Linked DNA regions of Homo sapiens: region 2 is linked to region 1. Evidence: fine-mapped QTL for protein levels in blood plasma. A gene starts in region 1. The other region holds a variant in brackets. All regions are shown on one strand. Distances are from middle to middle.

Region 1 (11,452 bases):
TTCATTGCGTCAGTATTCTATTCAAGAACCTAAACATCTGCCCCAGGAACTAGGAGACGAGTCCTATTGCTAGTTATGTTGCTTGCTTTTCTAGTATCACTTACATCCATTTTAAAAGGTAGAAACTGTACTCCAGGATCTCTGAGGTTCTTCATGGCAGATCTAAATTGTAATGATTCTTACCTGTTTCCATGAAGACATCTCAGGAGGCTAGACACTTCAATGTATCACAATGATATCTCTCCATCCTCTGAATTCAACATGTTATCTGTACCACTCATTAATTGTGAACACATGACATCTATTATGCTATGGAAACTGATGTTACAGCTCTCTAAGTTATAGAAAATGATATAACCAAGTTTTAAATTATATGAAAATTTTAAAGACACCAAGACATACTATAGTCTTAAATTCCAATAATTCAGAAGTTCAAAGACAACATCAAAGTCCATTTCTTTCCATAAGGCTAACTCCAATATACTAGCTTTATCCTTAAGCTAGTTGACATCGCAGTTGCAAGATGGCTGTAGTTGTTCCAAATTTCACATATAAACTTGACAATATTTTCTTTAACAAATATCTCTCTTAGGAATGAAAATTCTTTTCCCATAAGTCACCCAGCAGATCTCATTGGTCAACCTTGCATTACATGCCCATGGCTAAATCAGACACAGCCCAGATGCCTGGGACCAGCCTAATCACCCTTCAGCATCACCTCAATTTTTTAGCTATGCAGAAGAGGATGGTAACTCAATAAATGGACTTCTGCTAGAAAGGAAGATGACAAGGGGCTGAAATTGGTTAAGTATGCTTCAGGGCTGAGACAATTTCCTTTCCCCATGTTTGGATTTTTTTCCAAATAAACTCCAACCTCTCTCAGCCATGTTTTAAGTTTTCTCTGATTCCACCTTGAGCCTAACACACAGCCTTACATAAAGTAGATACCTTATAAGAATATTATCAAGTATTAGTTTTATGAAATTCACTGTAGCCAGATCAATAAAGCCTCTATGGATCACCTGAAGGGGCATAGGAATCACTGTCATACACAGAGTCTATTGTCTCATGATTTGCAGTGCTAGGATTCTCCCCTGTAGGGAGCCACTCTTCTGTATGTTCTGCTGGTAAATGATTGGTCACTGAACAACTGGAAAAAAAGAACTCCACCAACCTTCCATTTCTTTCACTTGCCAATCAGAGCGGTGATCTTTCATGGTTTCTCTTGTTTTATGCTGTGCTAAATCTTTTACTAATATCCCAAGCTGAGCAGTGTTGGTAGTCAAGACTTATGGCTTTAGTGGTAGAATTTATGTGATGCCTGGACACTTTTGGCCCCAAATATTTTCCCCATTCTTCCTGAAATTCTTGACTTTATACACATTGACTGAACATGTGTCTTTATTTTGCTGAATGTCTAAAATTACATCATGAGAAGCTCATCTCTTTACATTAACAAGCTTCTACCTTTTAATATCTCCAGGGCTGTCAGCACATGAAGACAGGGAGTAGTCATCATCCACTTCGGAAGGAATTTAACTGACACAGCCGCTCACAGCCACTAACTCTTGATGTTGAAATCTACCTGTCTTGGTGATCATCCCACAAGGTGGTAAGGGGTAGGTAACACTGGAATTTTAATCTTAGGAAAGTGGGGAGGCAGTGATGATATTTAAGCAATCACTTCCAAACCAGACCATACATCAGAAATATATGAGCCATTGTAAATACTGAATCCTAAACCCCAGTCCATAAATTTAAGTCAAACAGTGGCTCAGGACCTAGTATTAAGAGAGCAAAGCTTAGCTGAGGTTGGGCAGGTATAACTGCTAAGCCATAGGGGAGCAAAGTTACTTTATCAGAGGGCGGCCTAAGTCCCATTAAGGGGCTGAGGATGAGACCAGAGAGGTGGTTTAGGGTGGGACCCAGCAAAGGTAGGTTACCTCAAGCTTTCCTTTTTGTTGCAAAAGTAAAAGTTCTCTACTTTATAATTTTGCTTGGGATTGACCCTTCTAGCATTGGATAATGGTCAGTTGCAAAGAGATGAGTGAAAAGGGGTGAAAGCAACAATGCAATGAAGGCAAAGGGAGTATTTGGAAAATATTTTCACACTAAATATGGTATGATCAGGTGTAGTCATAACAAAGAATGGTGTATATAGATGGCTTTAGAGTGTGTACATGTGTGGGCATGTGTGTGGTGTGTGTGTGTGAATGTGTATTTGTGTTCAGGAAAGCATACAGTAAAGAAAAGATTGGATAGGTAGAATGTACCTTTTTATGACATGCCAAGAAATTGGCACTTTACCCTACCTGAGATGGGGAGCCACTAACATTTGAAACAAAGCAGTAATTGGAAACATATAAGTGTCTTAGAAAGATATCATTAGTGAAAATGAAGAGAATGGGTTGGAGAGATAAGAAAAGAAAATCCAGTTTAAAAGTTACATACAGACATAAGATGAGGGACTGACTGGGTGGCAGGAGTTGCATGGATGGGAGGAGAGCCAAGAGAATTTGGAGAGTGGCTGTGAGGTTGAAAACATGGGGACAAATTCCTGGCTTTCATGTTTGTGTGATAATAATACTGCCATTAAACAATGGTAGCCAATAGAGGAGAAAATTCTGGAGGACACGTATTAAATTCAGTTTTGGAAATGTTGAATCTGGCTTACTTACAGACTGTCTAGCTGGAGAAATTTGGTGGCTGATGGAAATACTGATCTGGAACTCAGAAGGGGAGGCTGGCTGGAGATAGGGACCTGTGCAGGGAATGGGCCCAGAGACAATCTGCAGAATGAAGAGGAGGATTCAGGATGAAACTCTGCAAACACCAACAAGGAAAGAGCCTGTGAAGGAGATGACGGGAGAGCAGCGAGGAAAGGAGGAGAAAAACAGGAAGAGAACAGAAGCCAGAAGTACAGGATGTTTCAGGAGGAAATTAAATATCAAAAGAAATATTTTTTTTACAATAAGAAAAATTAGAATATTTACAGACTGAGGGGAAGTTACATTAGGGAGAGAATTTGAAGACGTGCACTGAAGAGGGATGAGTGCTGGGGCAGGGTTTCAGGGATAGTAAGAAAAGATGTGGTCTAGAACCTGGGTGGAAGGACTATCCTTGACCTGTGAACATACTGGAGAAAATACGTGATGGCCTTCATTTCAAAATTACATTTGCCTTCTGCTAATGGCCTATATTTAGTTTATAGATTATCTAGGCCTCTTATGTTCTCTCTTTTTCATCCTCAGACTGCCCATTTACCATTTTCATGGTATTAAGCACTTAGAAATGAGCACTGAAAGGTGATAAATATAGGACTAAACTATGAGTACATTTTCTTCTTAAGCACCTGTGAAAAGGTTTCTGGAAAGCAAATTTGAATGTAAGTGTTAAAATAAGATTTGAAGGTGATATGTTTTTAAAGTGGTTTGCATGTATGCTAGAGATGATACAAGATGTCTAAACACACATGTGTTTTATACATATTAACAGGTATATATATGTATATACAATTGTATATACATAACACGGCATATTGTATACTCAAGGAACAGGTTTTCTCTTAATTTAAGATCATCATAATGAAGCTCTGTCACATACATAGCTTTTAAATTTGAATTTTTGTATGTGATATGATGCAATTGTACATACTATAATTTTATAACAGTTATGTGTGTGTGTGTGTGTAATGATAGTGAATGAGAAATTTTATACAGATAGGGTAATGCCATACAAAATTTTAGATACTACTGAGCTAGAGATTTCACTTATTCATGTTAACCTGGGATACTCATGGTACCAAAAAACGATGCTGCTTCTCCAGGAACCTCAAGTGATATCACAAATGAGAGAGCTTTCTTATGAGGATCTTAAATTAAGAGAAAACCTGTTCCTTGAGTATACAAATGGCTGGAGTAGGAGGAGGGAATAAATGCACAAAACTTTTGCAGATGTTATTTTCGATCATCTCTGCTTGCTTGCCCTGAGGTGTCCTTATTAACTCCAGGTTAAGTCTCTGTTCCTGACTTCATGCCTTGCAGCGTTACATTCCATTAAAGAATTTCTCACTGCTCTTTACATAACAAGCCTCAACATTTCAAAGATAAGAAAATGATGTTATGTTTCCACAGCTTATTTTAATACTGGGTAATTACAGAGAGATGAAAAGCTTGGGTTTATATTTCTATTAGCTCTAGTTGTATTCCAGAGACTCATTTTCAATGTCAAGTACAACTTTACCTGAAATCCGTAGATTAGGGTTGGTGGCCCCTCAAAACAACTCATCTGGTTCCCGGAGAAAGTATCTGAAGCACCCAATACAGGTGAGACAGAAAACCTAAGATGCCCATTCTCTGCTCGGGCTGGGGACAGTGGTGCTATTTCTCTCTTATCTCTGACCTGGAGAAAATGCCACCAGGTTGACGTGGACTAGGATTCATTCCTCCACAATAAAGAATAGCAAGTGGCTGAATGTCAGTCTCAAAGGAGGACAGCTTAGGAAATATTTATCTTCTTTGTAAAAAAAAAAAAAAAAAACCACACACACACTTTAAAATCAGAGACAACTTTTTTGTTTTGTTTTGATCGCTGTTCAAACTACATTATACAAACGTGTCTCCTTCTCCCTCCAAATAAACTAAAATTCTTAAATTTGACCACACTCTAGCTCTGCCTAATGGTCAGGGAAAAAGTACTCAGGCGATGGTCCCACAAAAGCTCTCCACCCCAGCCTTATTTCCTCCTCTTAGTGTAAAAGAACTCAGGAGGTGGGCGGGCCCCACTGCCACAGCACTACAGTTAGAGCGGCTGCTCCGGCTTATTCTCTCATTGCGGCATCTAGGATCCAGAAGTGAAAAGAACTTTTCCTAGCCTAAGTTTACATTCGTCGAATAGACAATGTTACAACAATAAGAGGAAGGCAGAAGGGAAGGAAGAATTCCCCTCTGCCAAGTATTTAAGTGGCGCTTGGTTTATTCCAAGTCCCCCCGGGAAGAAACACAGCGCTTCGTCCTCAAGTAAGAAATAGAGGCATTATTCACATCCTTGGGTTGAAAAATAAGCATTTTGGGGCTCGCAGGCTTCTGCAAAGCCAGCAAGCACCGCGCTGGGGAGCTGCAGGCCGCCATCAGCAATGGATTCCGGATTTCCCTGGTCTCTGGCAGGCGCGGCACCTGTCTGAGCCAGGGGAAGTTGGGCTGCAGGACTCGCGGTCTCCAGGACACCCGCGGATCCCCACACTGTCCATGCTTGAGTGCGTGCGTGTCTGTCTGTGTGTGTGTGTGTGTGTGTGCGTGTGTGTACCTAAAACAAAGCACTCACTGAGATGACTTTGGAGGGTGCTTAACAGACAGGGCGAGACGCGCCTAATGGGGACGCAAGGCCTGGGATAGCAGGAAGGGAACGAAGAAGTATCTCTTTCCAAGCAGGTCCTGGTGGCTGGGAGCCCGAGTCCACGTGGAATCCGAGGGAACACACGGAGCTCGCTCCCTAGTTCCGCCCAATCCCTCCAGCGAGCCCCAGGAAGCCGCGCGGGTCCCTCCTGCAGCCGATGCAGAGCGAAATCCCCGCTTACCTTGACTGAGCGCTAACACCAGCAGCAGCGGCAGCGGCGCGGCCCCTGTCCGTTCTGGCCCCATCCTGGGTCTGACCGGGGGACCGTAGTTGCGCTGGGTTTGCAGAGGTTTGCAGAGGATACCCTTGGCCGAGGGATACGAGAACCTGCACACTCTAGAAGCTGTCCAGAGGGCTTCTCTCCCCCGCCCGGTGAGAGCAGGGAAAAGTTTCTGGGCAGCTCCTGCAGCGCCGAGGGCCCGCCCCAGCCCGCCCCTCCTGATTCCGCAAACACCGGATCTGCTCCGGCCGCGCCCCGCCCCACCCCGGCCCTGCGGCCCCGCGGGCTGCACCTCGGCTCGTCCACACGCGGGGCACCGCACCTTGGCTCCCGTACAGCGGCCCAGCCCCGGCAGCCTGGAGGCGGTGGGGATGGGGATGGCGCCCTGGCAGGCTTTCCTGCCCTGGACGGGACGGGTGGGCATATCCGACGGGCGAGCGCCCGCCCTGGCACCACTCCGCCCCCGCAGCCTGTCGCCAGCACGCAGGAGATGCCCCAGTCCCCGGGAGAACGTGGCCCCTCCGCAGCCCTTGGCAGCGCCCGGCTCCTGGCAGCGGGTGCCGAGGGCACTAGCCCTAAACCACAGTGCCTAGGGGCTGCGCGGTGCGTCCCTTTCTCTGTTTTTCCTAAGTGGGTGGAGAAAGGGACAAAAATAAGCGCAGAATGACCAGGTTAGAAACTAACTCATCAGGAAAGAAGATCTGCTCACAAGTTATGATTATCCAAGGTGATATTTAAGCAATACCTGCTGCAAGAGCTGTGTGTGTGTGTGTGTGTGTGACAGAGAGACAGAGAGAGAGAAATCATCATTACTTCCTCTCCTCCGAGATAATTAAGAGCTGATTTAATGACTGAGTTTAGGAGATTAACTTCAAGGCCAGAGAAAAGGCTGAGAGCCCATACATGCACTTGTGACTCTCCCTGTCTACATTACACCATGACATAGACTGTGACCATTTTCTTCCATTATTTCAGTCTCACATCTGGAAAGAGAACATTCTATATCCGAGATTTTTAGTTAAAAACCTAAGAAATAGGATATTAATTTTTCTTGTCTGAATCTTATGTTTTATCCAAAAGTTTGGCCACAAATTTCCAGCACATTGCTGAAACCAGAATTCTTCCAGTGACTACTTTTGTGAAGGAACGAACTGTTTTCATAAATCAAGCTTAAGGAGTTATGAGTCTAATAATCATCATTATTGTCATCATTCCAGATCTTCATGGAATGCTACTATGAGCTGAATGGGATGCCTGAGATACTGCCTCTAGGAAGCAAAGTGGCTCAAGGTGGGAAGGACTTAATAATTCATAAAAATCAAGCTCTTCTCTTTACTATAGATAGGGCTGATGTGTCACATTGTTAAAGTATTAAATTGGTATGCATCAGATGTTGCTGCTGATGGCTTATGACTAATACCCTTTGAACCCAAATTATATAGTCCCAGGCTCTTTCCTGTTTTCTTATCAGTCACTTACTGGCTGCACTTACTCACCTTGACAAACACCTGAAGGCATTTTTTTCTGAATTGTCTGGGGTACTCACCTGCTTACTAAAACTCCGGCTATCACCTGAGAGCTCTTAGGTGGCTGCTCACTAACCGGTGACACGATTTTGACGCTCCTTACAGACTTTTTGAAGGAAGTCAGCCAGGTTTCAGGGAGATGAATATCTGTCTGTTTCCTTCTGACTCACTGAAATGTGAGTAAGTGTTTGGAACAGACCTGTGTTTGGGAGGCAGGACACTTCCTTTAATGTGAGACAGGAATTTGTGTTTTATCTCTGGGGGTGGGGGGAAATAACATGCATCCTTCTTGGTTTTTGTTCTCAGAACTGGACAAATTAACATTACACTGTCATGAAGTGCAGAATAAGTCAGGAGCTACGATTTTCCAGAGCCAGGCAAAACTTTTAGAAACAAAGAACAAACTCCTGCCTCACATTAATTTTAAGAGGATAAAGTGTTCCTGAGACAAAGTAGTTTGAGAACCCCTTCCAGGGTGCTCTCCTGCCTAGTTGCAGTTGTGAGGGACACCACATTCAGAGCAGGAAATATGGAAGGTTAAGCTGGGGCTTCTCAAACTCTTTGGTCTCAAGAGCCCTTTACTCAGTAAGTCCTTTAACAAAAATCCTATTATGTGTGAACATAAATAATGTACATTTTATGAAAAATAACTATATTTCTCCAAATGAAAGAATCCGGGAGAAGAGTGGCATTGCTTTACATTTTTGCTAATATTTTAAATATCTGGCTTAAAAACAGACATTTGGATTCTCAGATCTGCTTCTGCATCCAATCTGTTACGGCATGTAGTTTTGGTGAAATTATATTGATTAATCTGGTGTTACACAGATATGGACTTAGAAAAACAGGAGATAATTCTGGATAATCCCCTGATACTACACCAAAACTCAACAAGTGGTAGTTTCTTAAAGTTGCAATGTGGAATCTGAAACCATATCAATGGTTTTTCCTATTCCGTGGCATTAAAATTCATTGATCTGCTGGCCTCTCCGTGTCCCTCTCCCTTTCTCTTCCTGTGAGTGCCCAGTGATGAAGAATACAATGACCACCAGTCCCCATCCTTGTTCTTGCACCATGAGGGCAAATGTCAACACAGTGAAAAACGCAGTAACGTCTCAGTATTGTTATGAAAATAGTTTTGACTTCACTGGCCACTTGAAAGGATCTTGAGAGACCCAGAGACCCTACTCCAAAAAGCACTCAGGGGTGAAGTGAGGCCTTCCCCTCTTTTTCTTTTCCTTAGCTCAAGACAGAGTTTTGTTGGGGAACACGGCTCAGATAAGTTTCCCCAGTGTTTCCTTCTGATCTGTTGTATCGTCATGCCCTGCCCTCCTTTGTTTATCCCGTTTTCATATAGACAATCACCCAAACCAGAAACCTCTGCTTTCTTCCCCAGGTGCACCACCAGCCCCCTGCTAACATCCCATTCCAATTCTGTCTTTACACCCTACTAGGGTTTTCTGTGCCATCTCCTATTTTCTGTTCCACTGCTAATCTCTCTTTGGTTCAAACCCTTTTGATCTTTCACCATGGTGACAAACTCCCATATAATCTCTCTGTGCTTCCTTCTCTCCTGTTCCAGTTCATCTTTTATACCTGTTGTCACAGTTATCCAAAAATGCAGGACTGATCTGCTGAAAATCATTAGATGTCTTCAGGACATTCAAAGTACCCTAGGGTTTAAGGTCACGATTTGGCTCCAACTCACCTCTGTGGGCTCCGTGGCTATCTTTCCCTCTTGCACACTATGTTTAGGCCAAATTCACGAGTTCACTGGCCTGCCTTTCCCATTCTTCATTGTCAATTCCTTATTTTTCTACTTAGAATAGCTTTCTTTTTTTCTTCCATTGTTTCAAATTCTACTTCAAGGCTCCAGTCAAATTCTATATTATTAGCCCAGCCTTTCCCATTTTCTTCACTGAGAACTAATCATTCTTCTTTCTTGGCTCTGGTTTCCTCTAGCTTTTTTTTTTTGTTTTTGTTTTTTCCCCCAAATAAACTTTCTTTTGTATGTATTACAGAGTAATATATTATTGAGTTATATGTGTATATTCTACCTTCTCATTTAAATGCTGGGTCTCTGAAATCTTATACATTTTTGTTATAAGAGTCTAGTCCTATACCTAGTAAATAAATTTCTAATAAATATTAATAGTTATTATAATACATTGAAATGAGTTTCCTAACAATTCCACATTCTTCTCCCTAGACCTGAAAAGGGTGGTAAATATGAACTTCTAGGTAAGTCCTAGTAATTTTGAAGTGAAGTAACCAGTGGCTTCTCAAATGTTACTCAGTGAATCCATGGGATGAGTGAGTAAAGCTTAGAATCCATTGAGCTTGACTCACACACAAGTCTCTAAGCACTGGCTGGGGTGCATAATGGCCAAAATAAAAGAGACACTCCTAACTTAAACACAAACAAAACAAATAAAATAATTCTAGATTTCCTAGCTTCCTGGACCCATCAATACACTGATGAATCATATTCATATTTCGATTCTAGCACAACTACGGTTGACTGGCCTTACTTGTTTTCATGCTTGTGGCAGACATGCAAAGCTATTTGCCAGCTCTGCCAATAGGGCTTTCTCAGAGTCTTCCATGATCCCCTTCTAGAAGTCACTGAGTCACATAATCCTGCCTCCTTGTCGCTAAGCCAAACACCTGACCAAGCTCGATCAATCTCCTAGGGATTTACATTCATGGTATACAGATTCTAGAATCTTTGCTGATCACATGAAATGGAAATTTGTGTTCACTTTGTACAACCATTTTCTTTCTTTTTTCCCCCCCGCCTTTTTTTTTTTTTTTTTTTTTTTGAGATGGGGCTTTGTGCTGCCTAGGCTAGAGTGCAGTGGTATTCATAGTTCGTTTCAGCCTCAAACTCCTGGGCTCAAGTGATCCTGCTACCTCAGCCTCCCGAGTAGCTGGGCAGGCATGCACCACCACACCTGTCTAATTTTTTAATTTTTCTTTTTATAGAGATGGGGTCTCACTGTGTTGCCAAGGCTGGTCTGGAACTCTTGGCCTCAAGCAATCCTCCTGCCCCACCTTCCCAAAGTGTTGGAATTATGCCCAGCCCATTCATTTTCTTCAATGAGTGTAGAAAAAGCCAATCTGCACCATTTATCAAAAACAGAGACAGATATGAGAGACCAAGAAACTGAGGTGTGCATGCATGAGACAGACAGACAGAGAAAGAGAGAGACACGGAGAGAGATTGTTCTAGGTCTTTTAATTTTGTTTGCCATTGTGTGAGATCTGACTGTTCTTCCTGGGTTTACATCCATGAAATATCTGTGTATCATTCTATTACTTTCAGTGGCAAAACCCACAATTATTTTTGGACCAACCTAATAATAGTTTCTCTTTTTCTCTGAAGCTAATTTGAGCAGGTTTCTAGTCCTTGTACTAGACTACGTTTAAGACATATCTGTCTCTCTTCTGGGAAATCTTAAGGACTTCCAAGTTAACATGTCTCATTAACTTCTTTCACTCACAGTTCCTAAAATAGAGCCTGACACAGAGTTGATGCTCAATGAATGTTTGTTCCCCAAATGAATAAACATACTTCTTCAACTAGTCACTAATGTCTTGATTTGTTAAGATGAACCCGAAAAAAAAAGAATTTTATCTCTTAGGACATGGAAAAGTTCAATGAAGGGGAAACATTGTTCATCCATACTTTAGACTTTTTTAAAGAAATGTGTCATATGAAGGATTAAGGCTGCTTATGGCTATCTGCTACTCTACTCTGTCTGGAAAACTTGCATGTTCCAGTTAGAGGGCAGTTATTTTTCAGGGGTGAAAAATAAATCATATTTAAACTAGCCCAAGTCAAAGAATAGTTAATTGCAAGGATATGAAGAACTTTCTGAGAACCCAAAGACAGGAATTATAGCCCTTGGGTACTTAAAGTGGAGACTGGGAAGATAAGAACCTAATTAACTCTCTGCAACTTTTAGGGAATTCATGACTTGTTGGCTTTGCTTCTCTGTGTGTACCTGCTCTATTGTCTTCTCTGTAGGCTGACTTCCTCCTTAATTACTCATCATTTCCATTGCCCTGTAACTTCAACTTGCAAGTGCCTTTAGTTTTCCATGGCTTGTCTCCAGTTAGGATTCTATAGACTTAATTTTAACTCAGTAAAGAAAGGGTCTTCTTCAGTTTGATACACTGTATGACCACACCAGATGATTTTTCTTTTTTTAAAATTTCCTGCCAAGAACACGAACTTTTGTTCTTTAGGTAGTTATTATTCTTTTCTGAAGCCAAGACCTCTCCTTTTCAGCCATTTTGCAATTTAACT
Region 2 (11,452 bases), 24 kb after region 1:
CATGTTCTCACTCACAGGTGGGAATTGAACAATGAGAACACTTGGACACAGGGTGGGGAACATCACACACCAGGGCCTGTTGTGGGGTAGGGGGACGGAGGGAGGGATAGCATTAGGAGATATACCTAATATAAATGACGAGTTAATGGGTGCAGCACACCAACATGGCACATGTATACATATGTAACAAGCCTGCATGTTGTGCACATGTACCCTAGAACTTAAAGTATAATAAAAAAATTTAAAAAAAACCTTGAAAAATGGTTAGAGGAATTGCTAACTAGAATAACCAGTTTAGAGAAGAACATAAATGACTAGATAGAGTTGAAAAACACAGCACAAGAACTTCGTGATGCATGCACCAGTATCAATAGCTGAATTGATCAAGTGGAAGAAAGGATATCAGAGATTGAAGATTAATTTAATGAAATAAAGAGTGAAGAGAAGATTAGAGAAAAAAGAATGAAAATGAATGAACAAAGCCTCCAAGAAATATGGGACTATGTGAAGAGACCAAACCTATGTTTGATTGGTGTACTTGAATGTGACGAGGAGAATGGAACCAAGTTGGAAAACATTCTTCAAGCTATTATCCAGGAGAACTTCCCTAAACTGGAAAGACAGGCCAACGTTCAAATTCAGGAAATACAGAGAACACCACAAAGATATGCCTTGAGAAGAGCAACCCCAAGACACATAATCATCAAATTCACCAAGGTTGAAATGAAGGAAAAAAATGTTATGGGCAGCCAGAGAGAAAGGTTGGGTAACCCACAAAGGGAAGCTCATCAGACTAGCAGCAGATCTCTCTACAGGAACCCTACAAGCCAGAAGAGAGTGGAGGCCAATATTCAACATTCTTAAAGAAAAGAATTTTCAACCCAGAATTTCATATCCGCCAAACTAAGCTTCATAAGTGAAGGAGAAATAAAATCCTTTATAGATAAGTAAATGCTGAGAGATTTTGTCACTACCAGGCCTGCCTTACAAGAGCTCCTGAAGGAAACACTAAATATGGTAAAAGAAAAACCATTACCAACCATTGCAAAAACATATTAAATGCCATCAACACTATGAAGAAACTGCATCAACTAACCAGCAAAATAACCAGCTAGCATCGTAATGAGAGGATCAAATTCAAACATAACAATATTAACCTTAAATGTAAATGGGCTAAATGCTCCAATTAACAGACACAGACTGGCAAATTGGATAAAGGTTCAAGATCCATCAATGTGCTGTATTCAGGAGACCCATCTCACATGCAAAGACACACATAGGCTCAAAATAAAGGGATGGAGGAATATTTACCAAGCAAATGGAAAGCAAAAAAGCAGGGGTTGCAATCCTAGTCTCTGGTAAAACAGACTTTAAACCAACAAAGTTCAAAAAAGACAAAGAAAGGCATTACATAATGGTAAAGGGATCAATGCAACAAGAAGAGCTAACTATCCTAAATATATATGCACGCAATACCGGAGCATCTAGATCCATAAAGCAAGTTCTTAGAGACCTACAAAGAGACTTAGACTCCAACACAATAATAGTGGGAGACATTAACACCTCATTGTCACTATTAGACACGTTGACGAGACAGAAAATTAACAAGGATGTTCAGGACTTGAACTCAGCTTTGGACCGAGCGGTCCTATTAGACATCTACAGAACTCTCCACCCCAAATCAACAGAATATACATTTTTCTCAGCACCACATCACACTCATTCTAAAACTGACCACATAATTGGAAACTGCTCAGCAAATGTAAAAGAACAGAAATCATAACGAATAGTCTCTCAGACCTCAGTGCAATCAAACTAGAACTCAGGATTAAGAAACTCACTCAAAACCACACAACTACATGGCAACTGAACAACCTGTTCCTGAATGACTACTGGGTAAATAACAAAATTAAGGCAGAAATAAATTCTTTGAAACCAATGAGAAGAAAGACACAATGTACCAGAATCTCTGGGACACAGCTAAAGCAGTATGTAGAGTGAAATTGATAGCACTAAATGCCCACATCAGAAACCTGGAAAGATCTAAAATTGGCACCTCAACATCACAATGAAAAGAACTAGAAAAGCGAGAGCAAACAAATTCAAAAGTTAGCAGAAGACAAGAAATAACTAAGATCAGAGCAGGACTAAAGGAGATAAAGACACGAAAAACCCTTAAAAATATCAACTAATCCAAGAGCTGTTTCTTTGAAAAGGTTAATAAGATACACAGACCACTAGCCAGACTAACAAAAAGGAAAAGAGAGAAGAATCAAATAGACACAATAAAAAATGATAAAGGGGATATCACCACTGATCCCACAGAAATACAAACTACCATTAGAGAATAATATAAACACCTCTATGCAAATAAACTAGAAAATCTAGAAGAAATGGATAAATTCCTAGACACATACACCCTCCCAATACTAAACCAGGAAGTTGTATCCCTGAATAGACCAATAACAAGTTCTGAAATTGAGGCAGTAATTAATAGCGTACTAATCAAAAAAAGCCCAGACCAGATGGATTCACAGCCAAATTCTACCAGAGGTACAAAGAGGAGCTGGTACCATTCCTTCTGAAACTATTTCAAACAATAGAAAAAGAGGGACTCCTCCCTAACTCATTTTATGAGGCCAGCATCATCCTGATACCAAAACCTGGCAGAGACACAACAAAAAAAGAAAATTTTAGGTCAGTATCCCTGATGAACATTGATGCAAAAATCCTCAATAAAATACTGGCAAACTGAATCCAGCAGCGCATCAAAAAGCTTGTCCACCACAATCAAGTTGGCTTCACTCTTGGGATGCAAAGCTTGTTCAACGTACACAAATCAATAAATGTAATCCATGACGCAAACAGAACCAATGACAAAAAACATATGATTATCTCAATAGATGCAGAAAAGGTCTTTCATAAAATTCAACAGCCCTTCATGCTAAAAACTCTCAATAAACTAGGTATTGATGGAACATACCTAAAAATAATAACAGCTATTTATGTCAAACCCACAGCCAATATCATCCTGAATGGGCAAAAGATGGAAGCATTCCCATTGAAAAGAGGCACAAGACAAGGATGCCCTCTCTCACCACTCCTATTTAGCATAGTATTGGAAGTTCCAGCCAGGGCAATCAGGCAAGAGAAAGAAATAAAGGGTGTTCAATTAGGAAAAGAGGAAGTCAAACAGTCTCTGTTTGCAGATGACATGATTGTATATTTAGAAAACCCCGTCGTCTCAGCCCCAAATCTCCTTAAGCTGATAAGCACCTTCAGCAAAGTCTCAGGATACAAAAATCAATGTGCAAAAATCACAAGCATTCCTATACACCAATAATAGACAAATGGAAAGCCAAATCATGAGTGAACTCCCATTCACAATTGCTACAAAGAGAATAAAATACCTAGAAATCCAACTTACAAGGGATGTGAAGGACCTCTTCAAGGAGAACTACAAATCACTGCTCAAGGAAATAGGAGAGGACAAAAACAAATGGAAAAACATTCCATGCTCATGGATAGGAAGGATCAATATCATGAAAATGGCTTTACTGCCCAAACTAATTGTAGATTCAATGCAACCCCCTCCAGCTACCATTGACTTTCTTCACAGAATTAGAAAAAACTACTTCAAATTTCATATGGAATCAAAAAAGAGCCAAGACAATTCTAACCAAAAAGAACAAAGCTGGAGCCATCACGCTACTTGATTTCAAACTATACTATGAGGCTACAGTAACCAAAACAGCATGGTACTGGTACCAAAACAGATATATAAACCAATGGAACAGACAGAGGCCTCAGAAATAACACCACATATCTACAACCATCTGATCTTTGACAATCCTGACAAAAACAAGCAATGGAGAAAGGATTCCCTATTTAATAAACGTTGTTGGGAAAACTGGCTAGCCATATGCAGAAAACTGAAACTGGACCCCTCTTTACACCTTATACAAAAATTAATTCAGGATGGATTAAAGACTTAAACATAAGACCTAAAACCATAAAAACCCTAGAAGAAAACCTAGGCATTACCATTCAGGACATAGGCATGGGCAAAGACTTCATGACTAAACACCAAAAGCAATGAACAAAAGCCAAAATTAACAAGTGGGATCTAATTAAACTGAACAGCTTCTGCACAGCAAAAGAAACTACCATCAGAGTGAACAGGCAACCTACAGAATGGAAGAAAATTTTTGCAATCTATCCATCTGACAAAGGGCTAATATCAAGAATCTACAAGGAACTTAAACAAATTTACAAGAAAAAAACAAACAATCCCATCAAAAAGTGGGTGAAGGATATGAACAGACACTTCTCAAAAGAAGACATTTATATGGTCAAGAAATATATGAAAAAAAGCTTATTATCATTGGTCATTAGAGAAATGCAAATCAAAACCACAATTAGATACCATCTCACACCAGTTAGAATGGCCATGATTAAGAAGTTAGAAAACAACAGATTTTGGAGAAATAGGAGCGCTTTTACACTGTTGCTGGGAGTGTAAATTACTTCAACCATTGTGGAAGACAGTGTGGCAATTCCTCAAGATCTAGAACCAGAAATACCATGTGACCCAGAAATCCCATTACTGGGTATATACCCAAAGGATTATAAATCATTCTACTATAAAGACACATGCACACGAATGTTTATTGCAGGAGTCTTCACAATAGCAAAGGCTTGGAACAAACCCAAATGCCCATCAATGATAGACTGGATAAAGAAAATGTGGCACATATGCCCCCATGGAATACTATGCAGCTATAAAAAAGGATGAGTTCATGTCCTTTGTAGGGACATGGATGAAGCTGGAAACCATCATTCTCAGAAAGCTAACACTTGAACAGAAAACCAAACATTGCATGTTGTCACTCATAGATGGGAGGTGAACAATAAGAACACATGGACACAGAGAGGGGAACATCACACACCGGGGTCTGTCAGGAGGTGGGGGGCTAGGGGAGGAATAGCATTAGGAGAAATATGTAATGTAGATGATGGGTTGATGGGTGCAGCAAACCACCATGGCATGTGTATACCTATGTATACCTGTGTAACAGACCTGCACGTTCTGCACATGTATACTTAAAGTATAATAATAATTTAAAAATTTCACCAGTTTTCAATTTGTATTAAAGATGTAAGCAGGCCGGCTAATGTTAAATAGTTGTGAGGTAAAACATTTTACCTATTCTCATAATAATACAAAGATCTAAGACCTTAAATTGGTAGTATTTTTTGGATCAGCACCATTACAAGCTACTATGTTATTTGTAAAATGCATTTCTGTCACCTTATAACTTTAATAATTCTGTCAAGGATCCGCTTGTATTGTCACTGTGAGAAAAGATCATTAGATGCAAAATGCATCATAACTATGCCTTACTTATGTTTGCACTATTATATGTTGTTTTGATTTTTATAATAGTTTAATAGTTTATTATATAGTAATCATTTTTTTTTTT[G/TG]AGATGAAGTCTCGCTCTGTCACCCAGGCTAGAGTGCAGTGGCGTGATCTTGACTCACTGCAACCTTCGCCTTCTGGGCTGAAGTGATTCTCCTGCCTCAGCCTACCGAATAGCTGGAGTTACAGGCATGTGCCACCATGCCCGGCTAATTTTTGTATTTTTACTAGAGATGGGGTTTCACCATGTTGGCCAGGCTGGTCTGAAACTCCTGACCTCAAGTGATCCATCTGCCTCACCCTCTCAAAGTGCTGGGATTATAGGTGTGAGCCACCGCGCCCGGCTATATAGTAATAATTCTAATATTGCTATATTTTATCCTAATATTACAGTCTACTAATACTGCTTCTTTATGTTTTGGATGAATGAAAACACTGGTTTGAGAGTTCTGACAGTTAGTAGAGGGTAAATACATTGAGAGACATTAACTGGAGAGGCGATTTTAGATCTTAAATTAATAAGGAAATGGAAAAATTAAATAAAATCTTACTTTGCACGATAGGTAGTAAGTTTATGGAACTCATTGCCCTAAGTTATACTTAATAGGTTAAAGAACACTTACATAAATACAGAGACTTTTGTTGATGCATAGCAAATATTAGAATTTGAAATGAAAGATATACTTTCAAATAACTAGTGCTTCACAAAAGCAGAACAGAAGCTACAGCTGGGATACTGAGGACCTTACGGTTGAAAGTGCCCAAGCATAGACCAGGTTTCACTGTTTGGGATGTTGTAAAGAAGTTTCCAGTACTGGGTGATTTTTCAACTGCCTCCAAGGGTTCAAGTCTATGATTAGTGATCATTTTGTATGTTCATGATTTCCTTGCCAAAGAGATGTAAGTGAGCTGGAAAAATATAACTATAAAACGTTATTCACCATCATGGTATTCCCCATGGCATTGCTTCTGACTGACAAACTCACTTTGCTGCAAAGTAAGTGCAGCAGTGGGCCCAGGCTCATAGACTTCACTAGTCTTACCATGTTCTCCACCATACTGAAGCAGCTGGTCTGATGAAACAGTGGAATGTCCTTCTGAAGACTCAGCTATAGCACCAGCTAGGTGGCAGTACATCAGAGGGCATGGACAAGATTCTCTACAAGGCTGAATATACTCTGAATCACTGTCCAGTATATGGTGCTGTTTCTCCAATAACTAGGATTCATGAGTCCAGGAATCAAAGGTGGAAATAGGAGTGACTCCACTCACTATTACCCGCAGGGACCCACTAACAAAATTTTTGCTTTCTGTTCTCATAACCTTATGCTCTGGTGGCCTAGGGATCTCAGTTCCTAAGGGAAGAATGCTCCCACCAGGAGACACAAAAATGATTCCATTGAACTGGAAATTAAGATTGCCACCTGGCCCCTTTGAGCTTCTCATGACTCTGAATCAATAGGCAAAGAAGTGAGTTATAATATTATACTGGGTGAGGTGGCTGATCCTCGCTACAGAAGAGAAATTCAACTGCTACTCCACAATTGAGGTAAGAAAGAACATGCTTGAATTCCAAGAGATCCCTTAGTGTGTCACTGAGTATTACCTTACCTTGTGATTATAATCAATGGAAAGCTACAACAGCCCAATCCAGGAAGGACTACTAATGGCTCAGACTCTTCAGGAATGAAGATTTGGGTCATTCTACCAGGTGAAGAACCATGACCAAATAAGGAGCTTGCTGAAGGGAAAAGGAACATAGAGTGGCTAGTGGAAGAAGGTAGCTGTAAGTATCAGCTACAAGTGACCAGTTACAAAAAAAAGAGGACTGTAATTGTTATGAATAGTCCTCCTTATTTTGTTTAGAATGTGAATATGTTTTAAATATAATTATATTTGTACGTATTAAGAAAATATCTTTGATTTTCACTCTCTCTGATTCTTTTGTCATGTAACTGCAGATGTATTGACTTTATATCATAGTTAAGTATTGTTAATTTTCAATCATAGTATTTCAGTTACTAGACATCAAGGAGAAGAGTGAATTTCAAAGACTTTGCCTCCTTTTCTGGGGAAGGGGTTAGTGCATTTTTAGTGGTATGCAGGATAATTGTATCATGTTTGGTGAAATTATGACCTTGTTATTGCCTTTATTTTGAGGTTAAGTATGGCTTAAGGAGATGTGTATGGGTGACAAGTTGACAGAGGTGGACTTGTGATGATTAATTTTATGTGTCAATGTGACTGGGACATAGGGTGCCCAGATATTTGGTTAAACATTATTCTGGTTATATTTGTGAGGGTGTTTCTGAGTGAGATTAGCATTTGAATTGGTAGACTGAGGAAAGCAGATGGCCAGTGTTTTTAGCCTTCATCCAATCTGTTGGAGGCCTGAATGGAACAAAAGGCAGGGTAAGAGAGAATTTGCTCTCTCTGCCTGACAGTTTGAATTGGGATATCAGTCTTCTCCTACACTTGGACTGGGACTTATACCACTGGCACTTCTGACTTTCAGGCCTTTGGACTTGGACTAGAACTACACCACCAGCTTTCTTCCACCACTTACATCATCAGTTCTCCTAGTCTTGGACCTTCAGACTTGGACTGGAACTATACCATCAGCTTTCCCGGGTCTCTAGTTTACAGACCGTAGACCATGGGACTTCTCAGCCTCCATAGCCATGTGAAGCAGTTCCTTATAATCTCTCTCTCTCCATATATATATATATATATATATATGTGTGTGTGTGTGTGTGTGTGTGTGTGTGTGTGTGTGTGTGTGTGTGTAAGATAGATATCTCTCCTATATACACATATATATGTATATATCTCCTATTAGCTCTATGTCTCTGGAGATCTCTGACTAATATAGTTGATCAATTTTTGCATCCATTCAGCAATAAACAAATATTTACTGAAAGTTACTATGTGCCAAGTACTACCAAAATAGATGTGTGTTCTCCTCTACCTCTGTGTTTTCATTTCTCTTCCAGTGACTTCCTCTCAAGTTCCTGTCCTTGGGGAAGCAGCTTCGGACTCAGATAGATCTTGGTTTTTATTTCTACATCACTACTTACTAGCTTTATAGCCTTGAAGTAGCTCCTTAGGTCCTTTGGGTCTCAATTACATCATCTGTATAATAGGAATAATAATAATAATACCATTTAGTGTTGCTGATAGGATTAAAAGGCTTGATGTTGGAAAATTGCCTAGCTCAATGCCTGGCATGTGGGAGGCAGACAACAAATGTTAGTCTCTTACCTTTCTTCCCCTCCCCATAGAAAATTGGGAGACTTCACCAGTCACCATCAGTTTCATTCAAAACTACCTACTTTCCCTGTATTACTGCCTTACATGTCCTGCCACTTTCAGAATTCAAATGACTTTCCATCTAAAAATACAATCTTCATTCACGTGTTTGCTCACATATGGGCTCAGACATGTTCACACAGAGATATACATTATGCTTAATGGCAACTCAAGTGGACAATAGTGAACTCAAACTTCAAAAAAAATTCTGACAAGATGTTGGCAACACAAGACTACATTCTTTACACCATTTATTCAGTGGTTCATCTTAAAAGGGGGAAAACCTGATCAGCCGTCAAACAATACACTAATTGGAATCTTTGTAGAATTACCCGCCTTTTAACGATGAGGTATGCAGAATGGGCAGGAATAAAAGAAGGGTCTGAAAAGTGTGTGAAAAGGAATAACAGATGGTACTTGAGTGAAATAGAATAGAAAAATCTGAGTAAAGGAAGGAAGAAAACAGAAAAGGAGAGATTGAGCATGCAAAGCTAAAGAGCCTTGGGCGTTTTATCAAGGATAGTTAGTCCTTGGAATGGCTAGCTTCCAGCTCCACTAATTACCGTCTGATGGCTGAATCTGGTTGCTATTTTTATTTACCAAGTTGAGACATTTCCACTCTTGCCTTTGGAATGCCATTCTGAGTTGTGGTATCTAAATGAATTCATGCCACACAATCAGTTGAAAGATACTACAAAAACAAAAAAATAGCTGAGTGAAGTGGAAGCTAAAGACAAAACCCACAGATATTTCAATGCTGCTTTTATTAATTCAAGCCAGCACTTGCCAGTGAAGTACTAACTAGAGACCTGGCACATGACCAAAATCTGTGAACTGCTTGGAAGCCTAGGTGCCTATGGACTATGATGCCTGTTCTATTATTCCTGCCACTGGGGTAGCAATTAGACCATGGCAACCAGAATCTGTGTAGGTTAGGGATCCCCCTACACATGAACTTAAGACAAATTTCAAAGTGGGGTGACTCCATGGATTCTTCCTTCATCCGAGTTTTATTTCAGGTGTCAATGGTCCTTGAAAATCTACAGGACATCAAAGTCAATCCAAGCAAAAATCTAGAATATCTACATGCTTAGCAGATTTCCATGGGTCCCTGTCTCCTTCACAAGATTAGAATCTTCCTATGCCTGGAACTAGACACATCTTAAAGTTTATTTTGTCTGATATAATATAGCCACTCCAGCTCTCTTATGGTTACTATTTGCGTAGTGTATTTTTATTCCATCATTTTTCTTTCAACCCACTTGCACCTTTCAAGCTAAAGTCTTTCTCTTTTAGAGGGCATGTAGATCAACTTTATTCTTTTATCAGTCTGAAAATCTCTGCTTTTTGATTTGGGTGTTTAGATCATTTACCTTTAATGTAATTATTGATATGGCCAGAGTTATATTTGCCATATTGCTGTTTGTTTTCTATATGTCTCCTGTCTCATGTGTTCCTCTGTTCCTTATTTACTGTCTTTTTTTTGCTAATGCTTGTAATGATGCCAGGTCTTTTGTTTCTGGCAAAAATTCTTTCTTTCTCTGGGATTATTAATAAAATAATATAGTTGGTTTGCATAATAAACAAGGCCAAATATGCTATCATTCTTAGTGACATTATCTTACCCATCTTTCCCCCATCACTCTTTGCTCTTTGCCCCATCCCACTTTTGCTTGAAGAAGTAGGTAAAGAAGTAATTATTCTCCATGCAGACTATGGAGAATTCTAGTGTGCCATATGTGTATGTGTATGTGTATAGCAGTTATTGGCTCAGAAGGAGAAGGAGGCGAGTGGGTAATTTTCTTCCTTATTGTCAACTTCAAAGCAAGGGAAAGTATTTGATGACCATCATCCTTTTTTTACTAGAGAAAAATTAAGAAATATAATATTATAGTTTTTAAAAGTACAGGGTACTATATTCTTTATGATTTTTAGCATATAATTTCTGGTACTGGTATGATGGCTATTTTAAAATTATTTCTTGTGGTTTTCAAATTATCTACATGTGTATACATCCCCCTTTTACCATAAATGTTTTCTTAACAATTAATATTCACATATTTTTAAGCAATTAAAATAATATTGCTGTTATAAAGAATAAATAGACATAATCTTCAGTCTTCTTAATTCATGATCACTTCTGTTTGGTGAAATTACACTTGACATCTGCCTATGCGGATCACATTATTTTTATAATCAAAGTAAATGAAGGTAAGGAAGTAAATGTTGTGATATTCTCTGGATGTACAAATAATAAATCTTGAGGTATACCATTTATTTTCCAGTGAATATATCCAGATTCTTCCTTAGTAACTCCACTGTATTCTCTTCCTGGATAAGGGGTGAAGAGAGAGAAAAAGCACTTACTTTACAGTAAGAGAGAAAAGATAGGGCAGTGAAAATGTGCTCTGCCAAAACTTAGGTAGATGACCTGACAAATAACCCCTTCATAATTCAGTCTGTGTCTTCTGTAACAATAGCTTCTCACTCACCCCACAGCATAGTTTGAGGGTGAAATTTTAAATAAGATGACCATGTGTTATTTTTACTAAAACTTCTTCCTGTATTTTCTTCTAGCCCTAATATGTTAAATAATTTTATATAATAAAGTATAAATTGAATAAAGAAAATAACTACGTTTAAATTTCTTGATTTTTTTTATATCACCTATGTGGTATAATCTATGTTTATACTGCAGACTATTTATTATTAAAACATCTCATT

Direction of the effects. Positions count from the first base shown, and alleles are read on the strand shown. Strength reflects both the effect of a copy and how common the allele is.
For the plasma level of the protein whose gene starts at base 5,756 in region 1, G is the high allele of the variant in region 2 and TG is the other (strong association).

The links. PIP is the chance, under the fine-mapping model, that this variant and not a neighbour inherited with it causes the effect. Protein levels are from antibody-based Olink assays in UK Biobank. Linkage for the fine-mapping came from a reference panel and not from the study's own genotypes, which makes the PIPs less certain.
Region 2: its variant is fine-mapped to the plasma level of the ITGA2 protein (UK Biobank, PIP above 0.99).

The regions. Positions count from the first base shown.
Region 1 is chr5:52,983,656-52,995,107 of GRCh38, reverse strand. ITGA2 (integrin subunit alpha 2) reads right to left here and starts at 5,756. Exons shown (of 30, transcript NM_002203.4): 1 at 5,576-5,756. The coding sequence starts at 5,639. ITGA2-AS1 (ITGA2 antisense RNA 1) reads left to right here and starts at 4,822. Exons shown (of 4, transcript NR_186583.1): 1 at 4,822-5,018; 2 at 6,832-6,904. RefSeq lists a silencer at 5,803-5,952 and an enhancer at 6,417-7,616.
Region 2 is chr5:52,959,462-52,970,913 of GRCh38, reverse strand. All of the region lies in intron 2 of ITGA2-AS1 (ITGA2 antisense RNA 1), which reads left to right. Among named protein-coding and RNA genes, the nearest start is that of ITGA2, 24 kb to the left of the region's middle. The variant G/TG (reference allele first, on the strand shown) is at 5,484.